3 linked regions of the Homo sapiens genome follow. The protein of the gene in region 2 purifies or fractionates together with the protein of the main gene of each other region. This does not show direct contact. Each region holds a gene or a part of one and is shown on either strand. Other genes may lie near its edges.

Region 1 (7,111 bases), on a different chromosome or scaffold from region 2:
CCAAAAATACAAAAAAATTAGCCGGGCATGGTGGCATGCGCCTGTAGTGCCAGCTACTCTGGAGGCTGAGGCAGGAGAATCACTTGAACCCGGGGGGGGGGGGGGGCGGAGGTTGCAATGAGCCGAGATCACACCACTGCACTCCAGCATGGATGATAGAGCGAGACTCCGTCTCCAAAAAAAAAAAAAAAAAAAAACCATACCTACTTAAGACTTAATTACAATTTTATGGCTGACACCAATAATCCCCTTTAATATTAAAAATACATCTATAAGCCAAAATAGAAATTTATTTTGCAAAATAAATGGTACAAGGTAAAAAATACAGTTTAAAAATATCAAGTCAATTGAGAAACAACCCCAAGCAGTACATTAAACTGTTTAAAATATGCCAAAATAAGTGACTAATTCAAAGTATCCTAACATTTTATTTCAATTAAGCAGTTCTAAAACTATAAAGTAAAAATTTTCTGGTGTTATTAACTTAAAGGTTACATATTTAGTGCAAGAAAAAATATAAAACAAAAGTATTCCCCAACTTAAATATAATTAAAGTATCTTTTTTTTTTTTTTTGACACGGAGTTTCCCTCACTCTTGTTGCCCAGGCTGGAGTGCAATGGCGCAATATCGGCTCACTGCAACCTCCGCCTCCCAGGTTCAAGCAATTCTCCTGCCTCAGCCTCCCAAGTAGCTGGGATTACAGACATGCGCCACCATGCCCGGCTAATTTTTTGCATTTTTAGTAGAGACGGAGTGTCTCCATGTTGGTCAGGTTGGTCTCGAACTCCTGACCTCAGGTGATCCACCCATCCTGGCCTCCCAAAGTGCTGGGATTACAGGCATGAGCCACCGTGACCAGCCTAATTAAAGTATCTTTTAAAGATATCCACACTTCTTTACTTTTTAAAAACAGATTAATTTTGGAACAATAGTTAAAAATAGTCTGCCAAGATATTGTATTACTCTCTCCCTGGAAGTGTAGTTTCAAAATCGGCAAGGTGATGCTGGGTGCGGTGGCTCATGCCTGTAATCCCAGCACTCTGGGAAGGACTGCTTGAGCCCAGGATTTCGAGACTAGCCTGAGCAACACAGCATCTCTACCAAAACAAACAAACAAACAAACAAAAAAAACCCAAGGATTTTTTTTAAAAACTCTGCAAGGTGACCCAACAAAACTGGAACGATACTCCTTGCAACATGGTCAAAACTTAGTCAGTTTCTACCTTCGCAATTGTCACCTGACCCTCTACTAGTCAGGTATTCCACACTTCCTCTCTAGAAACATGTGTTTCCTGTTATTTTGTTTTTAAATTATTAAATGAAAATCATGATGAGAAACATCATTTTACACTGTAGGGATAATTCCCTGGGCTAACCAGTAAAAAGCTATCAGTGCAGTTTAAAACAAAGTAAAGGGGCCCTATAGGCCCCACTGAAAAAGGTAGAAATATGACCAACTACTACCATATGCCTTTCCTTAGAAGAAACATAATGATTTAATGATGCCCCTAAGATTCATAAAGATACTAACTCTGAAATATCACAGAACATGACATAGGTTTCAAATGGAAGAACTCTTCTAATGAAGATGGAGAATAACACATTGTAAACTAGTATCTTTCACAACCTAATTGACACTTTCGGTGACTTTTTTTGGTGAATAAACATCTTAACATATTCATTTTCCCCTATACACATTTTGATTACACCTCATAATGCAACACGGTAAAAAGGACGTGATTGACTTTTCTGTGCAACCTACTAAAATATGTCCTTTCTTATAAGGAAATTAATTTTGGTTGCAACTTTTACCTGTCACTTTTCATGAACCTCACCACCACATAATTCAAGACAGAGATATATTAACTATATACTGAAGTCTTAAGTATTTGGGGGTAGAAGACACCTTTGAAAACCTGAATAAAATTATGAGTCTTCTCCTTCCAAAAGTATGGTAACAAGAAATTAAAAAGTCAAAGTTCTAAAAATCTTCTCAACTGGACCTACCTGATTTTAAATTTAACTATAAAGCTATCATAACTAAGGTAGTGGGGTATTAGCCTAAGAAAACACACACAGATCAATAAAACAGTAGAATCCAAAACTCACAAACATAAGCAATTGATTTCAATAAAAGTGCCAAGGTGATTCAAAAGAAATTTGATAAATGTGAAACAACTGGACATCCATATGTAAAATAATGAATGAACCTTAACCACTGCTTCACAATTGCTGGAGTGCAATGACGCGATCTCGGCTCACTACAACCTCCCTCTCCCGGGTTCAAGTGTTTCTCCTGCCTCAGCCTCCCAGGTAGCTGGGATTGCAGGTGCCCACCACCATGCTCGGCTAATTTTTGTATTTTTAGTAGAGAGGGGGTTTCACCATGTTGGCCAGGCCAGTCTCAAACTCCTGACCTCAGGTGATCTGCCCTCCTCAGCCTCCCAAAGTGCTGAAATTACAGGTGTGAGCCACCATGCCCGGCCCCACTGATATGACTTTTATATGACTCCATTTATATGACTTTCTGGAAAGGGCACAGAGATCAGACCAGTGTTTGCCAGGGGCTGAGGGTAGAAGATGAAACTGAGTGCAAAGAGGAACTAGGAGCTGGGCTTGGTGCATGCCTGTAGTCCTAGCTACTTGGGAGGCTGAGGCTGGAAGATTGCTTGAGCCCAGAGTTCAAGTCCAGCCTGGGCAATACAGTGAAACTCCACCTCTCTCTCCCTCTCAAATAAATCAATCTAGTTTTTACAAAAGCAATTATGAACTTTCTATAGACCTCTAACCTACATCTTACTTTGAGAACCTCAAATATAACATATATAGTCTCCCTTAGACCAGGAGTCAGAACAGTTCAGCCCATGAACTGGCCCACTATCTGCTTTTGTATAGCTCACAAGCTAAGAATACTTTTTACATGTTTAAGTGGTAGAAAAAAAATCAAAAGAAGATTTTCATGACACATGAAAATGATATGAAATTCAAATTTCAGTGTCCTGAAAATGACTACTGGAACAGAGTCAAACTCATTTGTTTAAATATTGTCTATTAGCTACTTCTGAGCTACTACAGTATTGTTGAGGAATTGTGAGAGGAACTGTATGTCCCACAATGCCTAAAATATTTGCCATCTGACCCTTAAGATTGCTGACCTCTGCCTTAAGACACAAGTTGTTGAAATTTTCTACACAGATGATACCTGAGAAGATTTATGCCAGCACAAACCTCTCTTCCATACATAGTAGCTCTAAAATTTTTACAGCCATAAAACCCTTTTTTCAAGGAAACTAACATGTAAAGCAGATAAATGAAGAACTTCAATAGTTATGGTATAGGGCAGCACTCCCCAACCTTTTTGGGACCAGTGACCAATTTCATGGAAGACAATTTTTCCATGGACAGGGGTAGAGGGGGTTTCAGGATGAAATTGTTCCACCTCAGATCATCAGGCATTAGATTCTCACAAGAAGCACACAATCTAGATCCCTCACATGCACAGTTTCTGATAGGGTTCACGCTCCTGCCGCTGATCTGACAGGAGGTGGAGCTTTGGCGGTAATGCTCACTTGCCTGCCACTCACCTCCTGCGGTGTAGTCAGGTTCCTAACAGGTCACGGACTGGTAGATACGAGGCTGTGGCCCAGGGGTTGGGGGCCCCTGGTATAGAGGCACTAAACAGAGCCCTGGGGTAACCTCTGAAGAAGGTCCTTGAAACCCCAAAACAGTGTTTTTCAAACTGCCTGTTGCAGCCAATTTGGCTGTCAATTTCATAAGGTGATTTTGTGACCGGCAGAAAAAAAGAATAGAATGTTACAGAAAATCAGATCACCTCATATCCAGTAAGGTTTTATTCACTAATTCTTTCACCAAATATTTTAGTACCTATGTGCCAGGTACTATTATAGATGAAGATTTTAAAACTACAAAACAGACAAAAACAGTTTCACATATGCATTAGTGCAATTTGGAATTTTTATTCTGGCCAGGTGTGGTGGCTCACGCCTGTAATCCCAGCACTTTGGGAGGCTGAGGCGGGCAGATCACGAGGTCAGGAGATTGAGACCATCCTGGCCAACACGGTGAAACCCCGTCTCTACTAAAAATACAAAAAATTAGCTGGGCGTGGTGGCAGGCGCCTGTAGTCCCAGCTACTGGGGAGGCTGAGGCAGGAGAAAGGCAGAAAGGCGTGAACCCGGGAGGCAGAGCTTGCAGTGAGCTGAGATCGCGCCACTGCACTCCAGTCTGCGAGACAGAGCGAGACTCCGTCTCAAAAAAAAAAAAAAAAAAAATTATTATTTACAATGATAGAATGTTTTCGAAAAATTCTCCTAGAGCTCTGGCGTACTTTGAAAACCACCGTCCCACAGTACATTTGTCCCAAACGTGCTGTCAGGAACTGCAGCTACATTACAAGAATGAAAACGACGCTTTATCCGATGTTACAGAGCTTCCAGAAGATATAAAGTTAATTGAGTTCAAAGCAATTTTTATATTCTACATCACCAGGGCCCAGAAAAAGAAGTTACTGGGCATTGAGTTCCCTCTATATGCATAGTCTTGATACAGGAAGGAATTAGAATAATAGTTTTTTTTTTTAAGCCCAAGAGAAAACATGGACACAAAAATAATCTCAGAGGGTAGGGGGGAAAAATAATTGCTTAATGTTAGGGTGGAGACTGTATTAAAGAGTATCTTCTGATTACCATGCTAATTAAGTATGTTAGTGATTTAGGCTGGAAAAATTGAAATCGAAAAATAAAAACATGGCAATGAAAACAAAAAATTTAAGAAAGAAATGGAACAAATGAGGCTATATTTTTCTTCTTACACTAACATGAAGTTATCCATAACCTTATGATTTTAAAAAGCAGTACTTGACACCTTAAAAACAGAAAAGCTCCCAAATAGGCCCACCTATTTTGAATTCAGAAGTTCTACAAGCAAGTTTTTTTGTTTTTTTTTTGTTTGTTTGTTTGTTTGTTTTGAGGCAGGGTCTCACTCTGTTGCCAGGCTAGAGTGCAGTGGTGCGATCATGGCTCACTGCAGCCTCGAACTTCAGGGCTCAAGTGATGCTCCCATCTCAGCTTCCCAAGTAGCTGGGACTACAGGTGTGAGCCACCACGACCAGCCCTACTGCCACATCTGACTTTACAGAATAACCAATGTAAGTTAAAATAGAGAAACAGAATGAGTAAAGGACTTAAAACACTTTAACTTCTGATGAAGACAAAATCTAGTAAGAGCTACTGACAAAAAAAGGCTTAAGGACAATATGAGGCAGAAATGTAAGGTGACTAGACCATACTGGATTTCATAAAACAAGGGGATTATGACACAAAATGTTCACTAGGTATTCAGCTAAATTAACAACATCAAAGTGTCAAAGAAACAAAATGCACTTCTGCAGTTCTGAAAGAGAAAACAATTTTATAATTGGGAGAAAAAGGGAAAAGGAAGAACACAAAAGTAGTCATCGCATTCTCTGACAAGGTGGGCATCAGGTCTTAGAAAATGCCAAAAATCAGAGGAACCTATTCCCTCCCTCTCTTCCCCATCACTCATGGAACACAGGTTTCCAGCTGCTATATCCAGACCCACCTCCTATTCATTCTAATCAAGAAAGCAAGGGATAGAAAAACAAGAAAAGTCAGACTGTTCTAGCCTGTTACCCTAATGTAATTTTTCTGGCCTATTATCCAAATACATGTACAATTAAATCAAGTTTGCACTCACATTTACTACATTCAAGGATTCAAGCACCCAGTCCAACATTCCTTTCTTAGCTGTTTACTGACAGTTTATTCCTTTAATGGCCAACATATAAAATGACTGACAGATAATATTCTAAACAGAAAAAGGAGTGAGTGGATGCCTAAAGAAGGGAGTTCAGTAAATAAGGAGAGAGAAAAGAATATAGAAAGTGAACACTAGAAATACCAAAGACAAACAACTATTTTATGATTTTTGCCACAAGGGCACCTGTGAATATATCTGTATAAGTATTAACAGCAATAGCCAAAACTGCACAAGCACCTGCATTAATGAGAATACCACTTTTCAGGGTTATGATGCAATCCAACCTGGTGTGGCTTGCAAAGATGTATTTTAATACAGTGGACCTCATTATAAAGGAGATTATATCCCAGAATATTCCCTAGTCAATACATTATTATAATTAAACAGTTTAAGACTGACGATCAGAGATCTTGAAAACAGAACATAATAAAATTGTAATTCTAATGCAATTGTGAGAAGCTCCCTTCTACAGAAACAGCACAGGAAGAACAGTTAATAAATATCACTCTGGTATCACACTTAAAAAAATGTATTTATTATACCATATGGTTAATTTATACCATACACTATTTCATACCATATGGCCATAGAAAAAAAATCAGGTAAATATAAATGGTCAGATGTTAATGTTTAATGCCAAAAGTACAAGTACATTCATTTGATAAATATTTAATAAGCACTAATCATTTACCAGAATATTCTATTTTGAGCACCTACAAAGTATTAATACTACAAATACAGGATGTGAAATTTGTTCATTCCCCAACATATTTTAAAGACTAAAATCTACATCCTATGTTCAAGATGTTTGATGGCAGTAAAAAATTAAAAACAACCTAACACCCCAAAAAAATGATTAGTTAAATAAATCACAGTATGTCTAATAATACGTAGAAATTTTTGCTTTAAGTTTTTTAAAATACAAAACTACATAGTGTTATAAAAGCATTAAAAAAGAACAGATGGAATACACCAAAATGTCTATAGTAATAATATCTTAGTGGCAAAATTACTGATGATTTTTTACTTTTTGTACTTATAGTTTTCTAATTTTTGATAATGACTTGCTTTCCCTTTGAAATCAGACTTTTTTTTTAGATGAAATTTCCCTCTGGGAAACTTTTATTTAAAAAAAAAAAACCTACATTTTACTGTTAGGTAAAATAAATCTTCAGAATAAAATGTGTCATTACACACAAGCAAACCTTTTCATTCTTTCCATGTAATTTGCAGTAAAAGATCCCTTTAAGTGAATGTAAGGAAGACTTCAAATAAAAGACCACAGCACATTTCAGTTTCCACTGAATATCA
Region 2 (7,111 bases):
TCTCCCCAAAGTCAGAGACACTATAAACAGTTAACATTCCTTCTGTTAAAAGGAAGACATTTGCATATACTCACGTTTTTAAACTGTTTATTCCTTTTTGTAAAAATACAAAGGAGAGATCATGCTGGCTCACACCTTGCCTCCTGCACCCGATTGTGGGTCTGAGGTCTACTCTCTTCTAACACCTGCACAGTATCCCCATCACGTAGGCTGAACCCAGTGGTGTGCTGGTAAATGTGTAACAACCAGTTTTGGGGCAGTATGGAGGGAAGCCCTAATTTATAACATCCATCACTTCCTGTGGTGTAAATACTCTCACCATGGTCAATTTCAGACTACCAATGTTATCTCCTGGAGTGGAGTAGAGTTGGGAAGAGTTGTATAATCAAGAGCTGATCACTGGTGGTCCCGTAATTTATTTACAGAACAAGACTCCATCTCAAAAAAAAAAAAAAAGTAGTTAATGAAAAACAAAACAGGTAATTAATTAATGATAAACTAGACAGGGTCTCGCTCTGTCACCCAGGCTGGAGTGCAGTGGCGTGTTCTTGGCTCACTGCAACCTCTGCCTCCCAGGCTCAAGCAATTTTCGTGCCTCAGCCTCCCAAGTAGCTGGGATTACAGCCGTGTGCCACCACGCCTCGCTAATTTTTATATTTTCAGTAAAGATGAGGTTTCACCGTGTTGGCCAGGCTGGTCTCAAACTCTTGACCTGAGGTGATCCGCCCACCTCAGCCTCCCAAAGTGCTGAGATTACAGGCGTGAGCCACTGTGGCCTGCCTGAAACAGGAAAATATTCATTAACAAAAAAATCTTACTTTGTTTAGAATACGCTGAAGAAAAGTGGGACACAGATAAGGAAATCACCAACCAATATTCTCTACCCCTTGCCTGGTTTTCAAAGGCTCTGAGACTCCAAGAATATTTTCCTAAAAACATAGTCCCTTCCTAAGATAGCTCCCTTGGACCCACATTCTCTCTGGGTCCCTCCTCACCCGGGGTTTTAGGAGTTGATGCAGGTGGCGACCCCAGAACTGAAGCTCCTTTTCCAGTAGTCACCTTGACGCCCCTAACATCTACCCCACCCCCTTTCCCTCCTTGCACACTCCTTTATTGTAATAAAAACCCTGTGATCAAGAAAAAATGAAAACTATAATGAGATTCTTGACAGTGAGCCCCAGAGCCTTGATGTTGCCTGTTGATGCCCTTAAATTAGCCAAGTTCTTCCCCATCAGAGTGGTCCTGCCTTGAACCCACCAAGCATGGCTACTCTGAGTTCCTGAGAGCTTTGATGCACTGTTTCCTGTTGTAGGATGGGCAGGCACTGGCTCTCAGGGAATGGGGGTTTGTGTGCGTGTACGTGTGTGGTGTCATGTGTTTCTGCACGTTCAGGCCAGGCCCCAGCAGGACTGGGCTGGGTTAAAGAAGATTTGGCTCACAGTCGAGGGGCTGGAGAGAGTCCTTGCAGGCAGACGGGCACAGTTCTCCCCATGGGCTCCACCAGGGTTGGGGTCAGGCCGCACCAGCCCCAGACTTGTGCTTGACCCCCACCACCCTCGACAGCTTCTGCAAGGGGCGGACGTTGCACTCGTTTGTGAGGGACCCCAAGACGTCTCTGGACATCAACAAGACGAGGCAAATCGCTCAGGAGATCATCAAGGTGAGGGGGTGCCCAGCTGCTGGGGGTGGGTTTCTGGCCGGTTCCAGGGCTCTCGGCTGTTCCTCTCGCCCTGTTACTCCCTGTTAGGGTGGTTTGGGCAGCTTTGCCTCTCCTTCTAGCTCAGGCTCCTCAAGGGTGGGACCCCATCTCTTCCTCCCTGTCTCTGTCTCATTCATTCAGAGCTGGGAGCTGATTGTCCACATGATTAGGCTTGATGGAATTGACTTGGTTGGGAAGGAACTTGGCAGGCTTTAGAGGCCAGTTTCAATCCTGGTCACACCCTTTGTGTGACCTTGGGTAGGTTTAGCCTCTCTAAGCCTCAGTTTTCTCCCCTGTAAAATGGGGATCTTCATATATCCTCCCTCTCTGGATTGGTGTGAGGTTAAAAACGCGATAATCCATGCTGTGGGGTACACAGGAGCCCTGGGTCTGGTGTTTGAAGACAGCTTGACCTTGGATGAGATCATGCCTATGTCAGGTCACCCACGCTCCATGCACCTGACTCATCAGTGTTAGTTCAAATAGAGCATTGGTTAGAAATCACCCACTGCCACCTCTTCGCTTGATAGGTGAGGAAACCAGTCTTCAGAGAAGTTGAGCACTGTGTCCAAGGCCACAGAGTGAGTGAGAATCTGAGCTGAGATGGAGTTCAAACCCCAGATTTCTTAGTCCAGGGCTCCTTCTACTACAGCTCAGACATTAGGAGCACTCAAAGTTGGGGACCCCGCTGTGGGAATGCCTCTCTGTTCCCCCACCTTGAGCCCTTGTCCTGCCTGAGAGCACAGACCAGCTGTGCATATCCTGACAGAAAACCCCAGCTCATTTAGGCCCTTTATGACTGTACACTGATAAATCTCACTGTCCCTGACCCCCCGGCTCCCTGCCCATCACCCTGTTCACACCTCCTACCTTAGCCAAGGTTAACATGGTTGTTTAGAAGCATGGTAACATTAAAAGAGCATAGACCGGTCTGGGATCAGATCTCAGCTCTGCTTCTTCACTGCTGTGTGGCTTGGAGCAAGTGACTTTCCCTCTCTGAACCTCGATTTCTTCTTCTGTAAAATGGGGACAATATACTGCATGGAATTGTGAAGATCAAATATGGGGATTTAGGTAAATCATCCAGCCCAGGGTGGCACCTCCGTCATCGTTGCACATCTTCACTCCTCCTGATGTGTCCTCCAGGGCATGGGATATCTTCATGCCAAGGGCATCGTACACAAAGATCTCAAATCTAAGAACGTCTTCTATGACAACGGCAAGGTGGTCATCACAGACTTCGGGCTGTTTGGGATCTCAGGCGTGGTCCGAGAGGGACGGTGAGTTGGTCTTGAGTGTCTGGGTGGGTTGTGGGTGCTGGATGGGGAAGAGCAGGGCTGAGGTCTGGGCACTTTCACTGTTTGTTGCTGAGCTGCAGCCCTCCCTGCAGGGAAGCCCAGGTCGCTTTGGTCCTGCCCTCGTAGTTCTGGTTCAGAATCAGATTTGGGTCGCGTTTGGATTCTCAGGCCGACTTCCACGGAAACCAGGTCCCCACACTCACATTTGCCCTGGCTGTTCACCCGCTTGGCCAAGGAACCAGGTCATTTCCCCACGATGAGGAAGAGTGTCAAATTTTATTTCCCCAAATCTTGAAGGGATTGGCATAGGGAGAAAGGCCCCTCCCCTCACATCTAGGGGAACCCAAAAGGGAGCATGGCAGCAAGGCTGCAAGGCCAGCCCCAGCCAAGTTTGAGATCCACAGGCAGATCAGGGTTCCTGGTTAGAGAGGCGCCTCATTCTCCAGCAGAGGGAGCTGGGCACCTTCACCAGCAGCTCCCTGTCAATATTTATCCATTCTTGCCCTGCTTTTCTAGAAACAACCGGTCATGACTCCTTTGTAGAATTCCTCAAAAGCACCGGTGCCTTTCCCAAGTGCAGGGTCAGTGTTCTGGGTCTGGGTGTGTTTTCTAAGCTGTGTGTGGGTGTTCTGCCGGCCCTGGGGCAGACCTGTGCCAGGCAGGCCTCTTTGCTGCCTGCTGAAAGGCCTGTGTCCTTGTCCCGGCTTCCTGGTCTCCAGGCGTGAGAACCAGCTAAAGCTGTCCCACGACTGGCTGTGCTATCTGGCCCCTGAGATTGTACGCGAGATGACCCCCGGGAAGGACGAGGATCAGCTGCCATTCTCCAAAGCTGCTGATGTCTATGCATTTGGGTGAGTAGGCCCCTGGTGCCCTGAGGCCAAGTGTGGCCAAAACAGAGGGCCCTGGTGGCCATTGGGGGCAGAGGGAGGCATGCTTTTAGGTGTTGAAAACCCAGGCTCTGGAGTAAAAAATCAACCTTGAGTCCTGGCTCTGCCGCTTGTTGAGTGCATGGTCTTGAGTCCTGGCTCTGCCGCTTGTTGAGTGCATGACTATATCCTTGACCTGGAATAGCTCCTCCCAACAAGGTCATTTCATGAGGACTAAATCAGGTAATTGTGTGCAGTGCTTAACACTGGCTGTCAGCCCCACCCAGCTGATCTGGGAGGATGCTCACCAGAGCTGACCAAGAACTGCTCCTCCCAGTCTGGGGGAGCTGGATATCCTGCCGGCTCTGCTACCCCACAAAGACCTGGGTGCTGACCAGTAGCAATATAATGTGAGCCCGATATAGAAGTTAAAGTTTTCTAATAGCCACATTAAAAAAGAAATGGATGAAATTAGTTTCCCCTGTTTATGTTTTATATATTATAAAACGATATATTTTATTTAACTCAATATATCCAAAATATTATTTCAACATGTAATCAATATACAAATTAATAAGATATTTTATATTCTTTTTTCCTACTAAGTCTTTAAAATCTGGTGTGTTTTCTGCCTAGAGCACCCCTCCATTCAACTGTGCACATTTCAGTCACTCAGTAGCCCCCCTGTGGCAAGAGGCTCCCACATTGGACAGTGTGGGTCTGATGGAGAAAGTCCCATCCCAAGTGAAGAAAGCCAAGGGGACGTAGAGAGGCCAAGGAAGGCTCACCACCCCGGTCACCTGTGCTGTATCTGGGTATCCTTCCCAGTGGGGTGGCCTTGGCGCCATCCTTCCTCCCTGACCTTTAACTGTATCCTTTCCTGAGCACCCATGTGTGCCAGGTGCTGGGCTTGGCAATTTAGTACTCCTCAAACAACCCTGTGACAAGAGACATTAGCCCCACTGAGGTGAAGCAGTTTTACTGGGATCTTGCAGCTAGAAGGTGGCAGAGCTGGATTTGTGCTGAGGTCAGAATGACCACCAAGGCTCCGGTCAAACCTGCGCTGTCTCAGACTTCCCACCCAACGAGAGCACAGGGCCCAGGTCCTCTAGGGCTGGGAGGAGCCTCCAGGAGCCCACTGTAGCATCCCCTGAAGCCAAGTGGGTGAGGAAGGCTGGAGAAGGGTCCTGATCCTCTGGCTGGGCTATGGCTCAAGGGCCCCTGGGCTTGAGCTGGGCACAGCGGCCCAGGAGCTCACAGACATGGCTGGGTCTCTGCAGGACTGTTTGGTATGAGCTGCAAGCAAGAGACTGGCCCTTGAAGAACCAGGCTGCAGAGGCATCCATCTGGCAGATTGGAAGCGGGGAAGGAATGAAGCGTGTCCTGACTTCTGTCAGCTTGGGGAAGGAAGTCAGTGTAAGTAGTACCTGCCCTGGGTGGAGCAGTAGGGCTGGAGGTGGGGTGGGGCATGTGGCATGGCTGCCCTTCACTCACCCACCTGAGAAATGGGGTCGGTGAGGAGCTCTGCCACCTGCACGTGTCTAGCTAGAGATGAAAATGATATGCATTGCCCGGGAATGGGGAAGGAACAGGGAGGCATAAATAAGAAAATATCTATCCTCACCCCACTGCTCACCCTTTTCATTCCTTTCAGTCTTTTTTTTTTCTTAAAGATAATGGTTTTCATTGATTTATGAGATGAAAAGAAAGTAAAGCCCCATGTTATTTACATGAAAGAAGATAATTTTTTTTAAAAAAATCACTGCTGAAAATACAAATAGTTGTGCTATGCTGTGGTATTAAATCTTTCCTCATAATGTTTTTCTTGACTATTAAGAACAAATCAAAGTTTCCACAGCAAACTTGTTTTCAAAAAACCAAGTCTTAATTATAGTGGCCGACTTCTCATTTCTACATGGTTTCTCCTTAATGGATTCTCTGTGTTTGTAAGTTTTGTCAGGCTAAATAAGAGAGAGAGGCTCTCAAAAGATGTTTATTTGGAAATAGAGCGTTGCACTGGGAATATGCATGCCATGGTGAATGGCTTGCTTATTCAGGGAGGTAAAGGAAAAAATGAAGAGGATTACACAATTATTTTGACATATTTAGTAGTTTTCCCTGGCTACAGAGATGAGTAACAAGAGTGATGTCAGTCCAAGGTTAGACAGGTTGTTTGAGGCAGATGTCCTTGTAGGAGTATTTTTGTATAAGGTTGCCATGGCCTTCGTACAAGGTTGCAGTTTTTGCAGTCTTTAGTGGTAGTTTTTGTTATCAGACATACAAGCCCAAGAAGCCTCTCTTCATGGCTTTCCCAGGCCCGATTTGTCAGAGTTTTCTTCACATTTGTGACTCTCTTTTGATTCTGACAGCTTTCAGTTTCCTTTATCACAGCACAGTGATATATAAAGAAACTCCAGGGCTTGGTGTTTTCAGTGCCATCAGTGATAGCCATGTGTCCATGAATCAGATAGGATTGGGACAGAACAGCCTTGATGTTAATAAGCAACTCCAGTCAGTATTTGGGCAGCATAACAATTGAAGTCTTCAGAGGGACCACCCAGCACTTGTCCAGGCTAAGATACAAACAGGCTGTGAGCTTCTTGTTAAGGTCATGAACATTGCTGGCAGGATCACTGTCTGTCTGCAGACTCTGTCTGCAAATTTGCAGTGATGAATTCAACCTCATCGTCCTCCAAGTTCTTAATAGATGGTAATATTTTTCTCAATTGACTGGTGGCAAGCAGCTAGGGCGTCTTCAGAAGGCTCACTCAAGATGACATTATATCTGATCTACTTTATTCCACAGTAGTATATGTCATCTTGTTGAAGTGCAAAATATTTGTACGGGGATGCCCCTCCAAAGATGACACCAAAATGCTATTTAACAACACGAACAGCAGGCTCCTCTTTGGCCAGTTGATACCATTTCATCTGGGGTGCTGGGCAAGGGCCATGGGTGATGAGCACTTCTCTGACACTCTGAGGCCCGTCCTTCTTGGCCTCCTTCTGGGCCAGGGCCAGTTAAACACCACCTTCACCTTGGTGCATCCTCGGGTGCCTTAGGAGCGTGTGGTGGTGATGCAGAATTTTTTGCTCCTTAGCTCAGCTAAAATCCAGGTTCTTGTCTCATGACCAGGAAAAATTAGGCATGCGGACACATTGAAAGGTGAGGAGAGTGGAATTCATTAAAAGAAACCTCTCAGCAAAAAAGAGGGGGTCCTCCCAACAGGCTCCCATCTCACAGATTG
Region 3 (7,111 bases), on a different chromosome or scaffold from region 2:
GACTAAATGAAAGGATAAAAGCAAAAGTACTTTGAAAACTGTCAGCTACTCTACAAAGCATTATTTTAAATAAAACTTCAAGCCAGCATTAAGAAAAAAAATGGAATTAAAAAAGACTAACCAATGAAAAGAAATAGAAATTAGAACTAATTCATTATAATGTCTGGTTCAACTAGATGTTAATAAGAAACCTTTTGTTTAAAGCTGTTGCTGAAAATCTTTCTAATCAGTACACTGTCTAAACAGTGTGTCTAAACAGTAACACATTTCAGAGCATGTGTTAATAGTAAGTATAATGAAAATCATTTCATTTTTTCTTGAAGATTCTAGATAGCTTTCTAATTTTTCTCCTAGAGAATGAAAACAGAAGAAAACTTCTGGTTGTTTGTGGATTCCAGTAATTGGGTTTTAGTTTTGCCACACTGGCTTTTGAAAATGTAATAGGAGTTGATAGACTAGTATAATCCAGAGTAACAATCTGGGAAGTAGATGGCTATAGTGGTAGGAAAATAGTGGCCTGGATCCTGGAAACACCTTAGAAAACTTGCACTCAGATGGAACTTAATCCTGGTTGTCACAGTATCCAAACTTTTGTCCTGCTACCTTCCGAACTCCTCAGAGACTGCTACCTGATTTGAACCCAGATGGACCGACCTCAGCTGTTGTCCAGTTAAAAAAAATACAACACTTTGGATTGCAAAACAAAACAAGACTTGTCCAAATGAAAAGTCCATCTTCAAGGCTTATTCATTCATTCAACAAATATTTATTTAGCATTTACCAAGTCTTTGGCAGTATTCCAAGTGCTGAAGATATAATGTTAAAAATGACAGACAAGGCCGAGCGCGATGGCTCACGCCTGTAATCCCAGCACTTTGAGAGGCCAAGGCAGGCGGATAATGAGGTCGAGAGATGCAGACCATCCTGGCCAACATGGTGAAATCCTGTCGCTACCAAAAATAAAAAATTTAGCTGGGTGTGGTGGCAGGTGCCTGGAGTCCCAGCTACTTGGGAGGCTGAAGCAGGAGACTCTTGAACCTGGGAGTTGGAGGTTGCAGTGAGTCAAGATCGTGCCATTCCACTCCACCCTGGGTGACAGAGTGAGGCTCCATCTCAAAAAAAAAAAAGACAGACATGGTCTCTACTCTCATGAAATTTCCATTCCACTGGAGAAGCCGGACAATTAAAGACTGTGATTAGTGGTGTGAAGGAAATACAAAAAGAGTAACTGGAGTTGTGGTAGGAACAGGGACACGAACAGCTTCTTTAGGCAGTGATCAGGGAAGGCCTCATTGAGTGAATGACATTTGAACTGAAACCTGAATGATGGGGAGAACATATGCAGCCAGCAAGGTGAAGACAATAGATGGGGGAGTTTTCCAGGTAGAGGAAAGCAAATGCAAAGGCCCTGAGGAAGGAATAATACAGCTAGGAAGTAAGTGAGAAGCATGCGATGACACAGAGATGAGTAGTAGTCAGATTAAATACGGATTAATAACAATGCTAAAGGATTTTAATTTTATTCTATGTGTGATACAAAGCCAAACATTATTATATAAAAGTGTGTTTGCAAGATCAGATATATTTCATGTACTAAATGAGTACTTTGGCCAGGTGCGGTGGCTCATGCCTATAATCCCAGCACTTTGGGAAGCTGAGGTGGGCAGATCACTTGAGGCCAGGAGTTCTAGACCAGCCTGGCCAACATGGTGAAACCCTGTCTCTACTAATAATACAAAAAAAAAACAAAATTAGCCAGGCGTGGTGGCGCGTGCCTGTAGTCCCAGCTACTCCGGAGGTCTGAGGCATGAGAATCACCTGAACCCAGGAGGTGGGGGTTGCAGTGAGCTGAGATTGCGCCATTGCACTCCAACCTGGGACAGAATGAAACTGTGTCTCAAAATAATAAAATAAAATGAGTTCTTAATTGTTTATATGTGCATAATGGCCACAAAATGAAAAGGAAGGGAAAGGTTCTCATACCTAAAAGGCTTGTAATCTTACAAGGAAGCAATAATTTATAAATAGTGACAACATTAAGTAAGGTAAGAAATGAAGCAAAAATCAAGTGTTAAGTATAAAGACTGGGGAGGCAGCCACTGATTCAAGTAGAAGAAATTAGAAAAGGCTTTTTTTTATTAAAAAAATTTAAAAAGGTAGCATTTGATTTGGGCTCTTAAGGAAAAGGATTTCAACAAGAGGGTGGGGAAGGGGAGGAGCATGAGGCTGTGGTAACTGCATGAGCAAAGGCACAGAGGCAGGAAAGAACTGGGCAGGTCCAGGAAACAGAGAATTATTGTAGGGTCACAGTGCCAGGTGGGTGGGTCGTGTTGTGGGAGATAAGCCTAAAAGAATAGGCTGTCAGAGTGGGGGTGTGGGTGTCTTGAAGAGCATGTCAGAAAGCTAGACTGAATTTACTTAGGCATTGTCTCCCCTTAAGTTTGTATATAAATCTCTTGAGGTACTTGATAAACTTCAGGTTCCCAGGCCCATCCCTCAGACACACTGATCTGCAGGTCTAGGTGGGACCTGAGACTCTACCTTTTTAACCACTGCCAGGTAATTCTAACACAGGCAATTAAAGGAACCATATTTTGAAAATCAGTGCTTTTTTTTTTTATGACAACTCTGATAACTTTTCTGCAAGGGAAAAACTGAAGCCAACTCTAAGGATTACTCAAGGACTCAAGGACTCTGGCAAAAAACTAAAAGGGGAATCTGAATTAGAAGACTGATTAAAGAACTCTTATCACCCCTGGGGCAGAATCAGCCAAACTTGGGGATTGATCAAATGTGGGTGGAGAAAAGTATTAAAGTGGTAAGTACAACCTCAAGCTTTCTCCTTAGTGAATCTGGGTGTACGCAGATGCATGGCGTACAGGGACTATCCACATAGCCTAACAGGTAGCTGGAAATACAGATCTGGAACTCAGATATACAAAGGCATTAAACATATTGGTTTGGTACTTCAAAGTAAGTTCAATACAAATTAAAGAATTAAATATAAAGTGTAAAACGGTAAAAATCAGAAGGAAATGAAAGTGAGTATTTAACCAATCTCTGGATGGTGAAGGCCTTCTAAACATCACAGCACCAGAAGAAATCTCAAATTTAAAAATCCAGGCTGGGTGTGGTGGCTCACGCCTGTAATTGTAACACTTTGGAAGGCCGAGGCGGGCAGATTACCTGGGTCAGGAGTTCAAGACCAGCCTGGCCAATATGGAGAAACCCTGTCTCTACTAAAAATACAAAAATTAGCTAGGCGTGGTGGCATGTGCCTGTAATCCCAGCTACTTGGGAGGCTGAGGCATGAGAATCACTTGAACCCTGGAGGAGGAGGCTAGAGTGAGCCGAGATTGTGCCACTGCACTCCAGCCTGGGTGACTGAGTGACACACTGTCTCAAAAAAAAAAAAATCTATAGATAAGTAATAATATACTATATACAAAATTAAAAGGCAAACTGGTTAAATATTTGACCACAGGACAAAAAATTAATATTCTTAGAAGAGTTTATACCAATCTCAAAGAAAAACACTAAGAATGGTTCTGTATGAAGTAGAAGAAGTTGTTAAATAACTTGCCTTGGAGACGTACACCCTCTAGTCACAAAATGAGACATTTTTCACATACATTGTAGATAATCGAGTTTTGTGGCACAGGTCAGCAGGGCTTCTGTGATTTTATCTTACCAGTTTCCAAGTGTCAGTCTATGGGAGTGCCTAAAAAAATACCAATCTTTTTGACTTCTTTTTTTTTCTTTTCTTCCCCCAACCCCCACAGCAAGAACCCCATTCAATTTTTTTTTTATACTTCTATTTTCCTGAAAGTTAAAGGGCACAAACAAATTAAGCTGTCCCCAGGCTCCCCTTGCTACTCCGGTGGACACTGCCTTTACTGCATCCAGTCTTTCCTCAGGCTCTATATATCTAAAATTAGGTGAAAGGTTAGAGATGAGACAGAAAGTAATTCCAGAATGTCTAGTGAACAGTAGTAGCTCCAAAGGCATCCTTTCAGCACAGAGGTTGTCCAGTCTTGGGGATCAAAAGCCCAACCCTCTCATTTTACAGATGAGGCTCTGAGTCAATGAATCAATGACTTGTCCAAGATCACCTGATTGGTTGATGACAACATTAAGTTGGGAATCCTGACTCTCAAATAGCACCCTTTCCATTCTGCAGTACTGCTTCATTGATCACAAGCTCTGGCCCCTCAAAACAATGGGCATTTATAACACCACAATTCCAACTTCTGTATACTTTCCACTTTGTCACTCCATTCACTCTATTTGGTCTAATAAAAGCCTGTGCTTCCCCCACAAAACGCTCCAAATAAAAGAATACCAAACAAAAAACCAACATAATTAAAATGTTAACGCCCAAATAAAAATGGGAGTGGGATTAACCCAGACATAATTCACAGAAGAAACAGAAATGAATGTATGAAAAATGTTCTCTCTCACTAGCAAAGAAATACAAATTAATTCATTTCTGCCTATCAAATTAGTAAAGATTAAAAAATAATATTCGGGCCGGGCGCGGTGGCTCATGCTGTAATCCCAGCACTTTGGGAGGCCGAGGTGGGCAGATCTCCTGAGGTCAGGGGCTTGAGGTCAGCCTGATCAACAGGGTGAAACCCTGTCTCTACTAAAAAACACAAAAATTAGCCAGACGGGCTGGGCGAGGTGGCTCATGCCTGTAATCCCAGCACTTTGGGAGGCCGAGGTGGGCGGATCACAAGGTCAGGAGATTGAGACCATCCTGGCTAACACGGTGAAACCCCATCTCTACTAAAAATAAAAAAAAAAATAGCCAGGTGTGGTGGCGGGCACCTGTAGTCCCAGCTACTCAGGAGTCTGAGGCAGGAGAATGGCATGAACCCGGGACGTGGAGCTTGCAGTGAGCAGAGATCGTGCCACTGCACTCCAGCCTGGGCGACAGAGCGAGACTCCATCTCAAAAATCATCATAATAATAATATTCAATGTTACCAAGGCCGCACTAAGATGGGCACTCACAATCACTGCAGTTGAGAATGTTAATTAGTCTAATCTTTACAAAAAGCAATTTGGGAGCAGGTTTAGTATTTTTAAATTTTCACACTCCTTGACCTGGTAATTCAACCTCTGGGAATCTAACCTAAGGAAATAATGAGTCATTTGCACAAAGATTTATGCATAAATTTGTTCTCAATTGTTTTCATTTAATGTAAAACCAAAACACAAATAAATTATGCAACCTCAATATAATAAATTATTAAATAGATTACAATGGAGATTAAATATCCATTTAAATGTTTTCAAAAATTTTTGATGCTATGAAAAATAATATAAAGCAAAAAAAGCAGACACAAAACTATATCTACTGCAACAGTATGAGTTCAATTACCTTTGTGTTTATGTGAGTGTGTGTATATCAAAGAAAACAAAACCACTGAAAGGAAATATATCAAATGATAGATCTCTCTGGAACAGATTATGGAATATGGGTTATTTTGTCTTCTTTATAATTTGTTTTTTCCACATTTTCTTTTTTTCTTTTCTTTTCTTTTTTTTTTTTTGATATGGAGTCTTGCTTTGTCACCCAGGCTGGAGTGCAGTGGCATGAGCTTGGCTCTCTGCAACCTCTGCCTCCTGGGTTCAAGGGATTCTCCTGCTTCAGCCTCCTTAGTAGCTGGGACTACAGGCATGCGCCACCATGCCCAGCTAATTTTTGTATTTTTAGTAGAGATGGGGTTTCACTATGTTGGCCAGGCTGGTCTCGAACTCCTGACCTCAAGTGATCACCCGCCTCAGCCTCCCAAAGTGCTGGGATTACAGGCATGAGCCATCACACCCGGCCTGTTTTTTCCACATTTTCTATAATAAACATATATAATTTTTATTTTATAATAATATAAATATCTATAATTTTTATTTTTAAATGTGTTGGCATATATGAAAATAAAACAATTATATATACAATATGAAAGAAGTTTTTTAAAAAGATAAATTTTCAGGCCACTTACATGGAGGTGATAGTGGAAGTCATGGAAAGAAATCAGATTATAAAGGGAGAAAGTATAGTGAGAATAGGAAGCTGAGCAGGGCTATGGTGAACCCGGCATTTAAGGGGCAAAAAGACTGAGTTAATGGATCATGGGAGTAAGTGGTTAGATTAGAAAATGGAGAACCAGATAGTAGTCATGTCAAGAAAAGCAAATGAAAGGAAGAACTAGACAAGTTGTTCACTTGGTCAGTTATTGCCAAGGGGTAAGGACCGTTAGACAGAAACCACTGGATACTATGCATGGACAGACAGCTTTCCTGTAGTGCTGGAAGCCAAATTTTTGCTCAGACGCCAAAGCTGAGCAAATGTTACCTGTTTAGTAAAACTGACTATGAAATAAAAGAAGTCCCGGGGCATTAGCTTGAATTTCAGTTTATGGAGAAAAAAAAGATTGTGGAAATCTAAAACTAAGTAAAGCGGATATTGGGACTAATTTATGGGTAATGAAACAAAAATGGCAATACTTTGTGCAAGACAAAACATATTTGAAGGACTGTAAAGTTTTCCATATCATAAACTCTGTTACAGAATAATTAAGGGGGAAAATAGATCCACACTTGTTATCAGAAGTACAAAAAAGTTGCATCTTTTTTTCCCCTAAAGATGAAAGTTCTTAGTTTCAGGGTAGTAGTATTTTTTTTTTTTTTTTTTTTTTTTTTTTGAGACGGAGTCTCACTCTGTCACGCAGGCTGGAGTGCAGTGGCGCGATCTCCGCTCACTGCAAGCTCCGCCTCCCGGGTTCACGCCATTCTCCCGCCTCAGCCTCCCGAGTAGCTAGGACTACAGGCGCCTGCCACCACGCCCGGCTAATTTTGTTTTTGTATTTTTAGTAGAGACTGGGTTTCACCATGTTAGCTAGGATGGTCTCGATCTCCTGACCTCGTGATCCTCCCGCCTCGGCCTCCCAAAGTGCTGGGATTACAGGCGTGAGCCACCGCGCCCGGCCCAGGGTAGTAGTATTAAGAAATTATTTAAAAGAACATCAAAAGAATGTAAAATTTTCATGGTATCATGTTAACTTCTTATGAGTGGACACAGGAAGTCTCTAGAAAGTTTTCACGTGTCA

The links.
Region 1: the proteins of KSR1 (region 2) and BRAF purify together in Homo sapiens (affinity purification with western blotting; 2 studies listed by BioGRID and IntAct, with this or other methods). This does not show direct contact.
Region 3: the proteins of KSR1 (region 2) and LIMA1 purify together in Homo sapiens (affinity purification with mass spectrometry; 2 studies listed by BioGRID and IntAct, with this or other methods). This does not show direct contact.

What each region holds. Positions count from the first base shown.
Region 1 is NC_000007.14:140,914,874-140,921,984, forward strand, and holds part of BRAF (serine/threonine-protein kinase B-raf), read right to left. Parts: intron 1-7,111. UniProt on the Homo sapiens protein: Protein kinase involved in the transduction of mitogenic signals from the cell membrane to the nucleus. Phosphorylates MAP2K1, and thereby activates the MAP kinase signal transduction pathway. Phosphorylates PFKFB2.
Region 2 is NC_000017.11:27,606,351-27,613,461, forward strand, and holds part of KSR1 (kinase suppressor of Ras 1), read left to right. Parts: intron 1-1,563; coding exon 1,564-1,660; intron 1,661-2,845; coding exon 2,846-2,979; intron 2,980-3,716; coding exon 3,717-3,848; intron 3,849-4,499; exon of another isoform or gene 4,500-5,027; intron 5,028-5,143; coding exon 5,144-5,279; intron 5,280-7,111.
Region 3 is NC_000012.12:50,273,467-50,280,577, forward strand, and holds part of LIMA1 (LIM domain and actin-binding protein 1), read right to left. Parts: intron 1-7,111. UniProt on the Homo sapiens protein: Actin-binding protein involved in actin cytoskeleton regulation and dynamics. Increases the number and size of actin stress fibers and inhibits membrane ruffling. Inhibits actin filament depolymerization.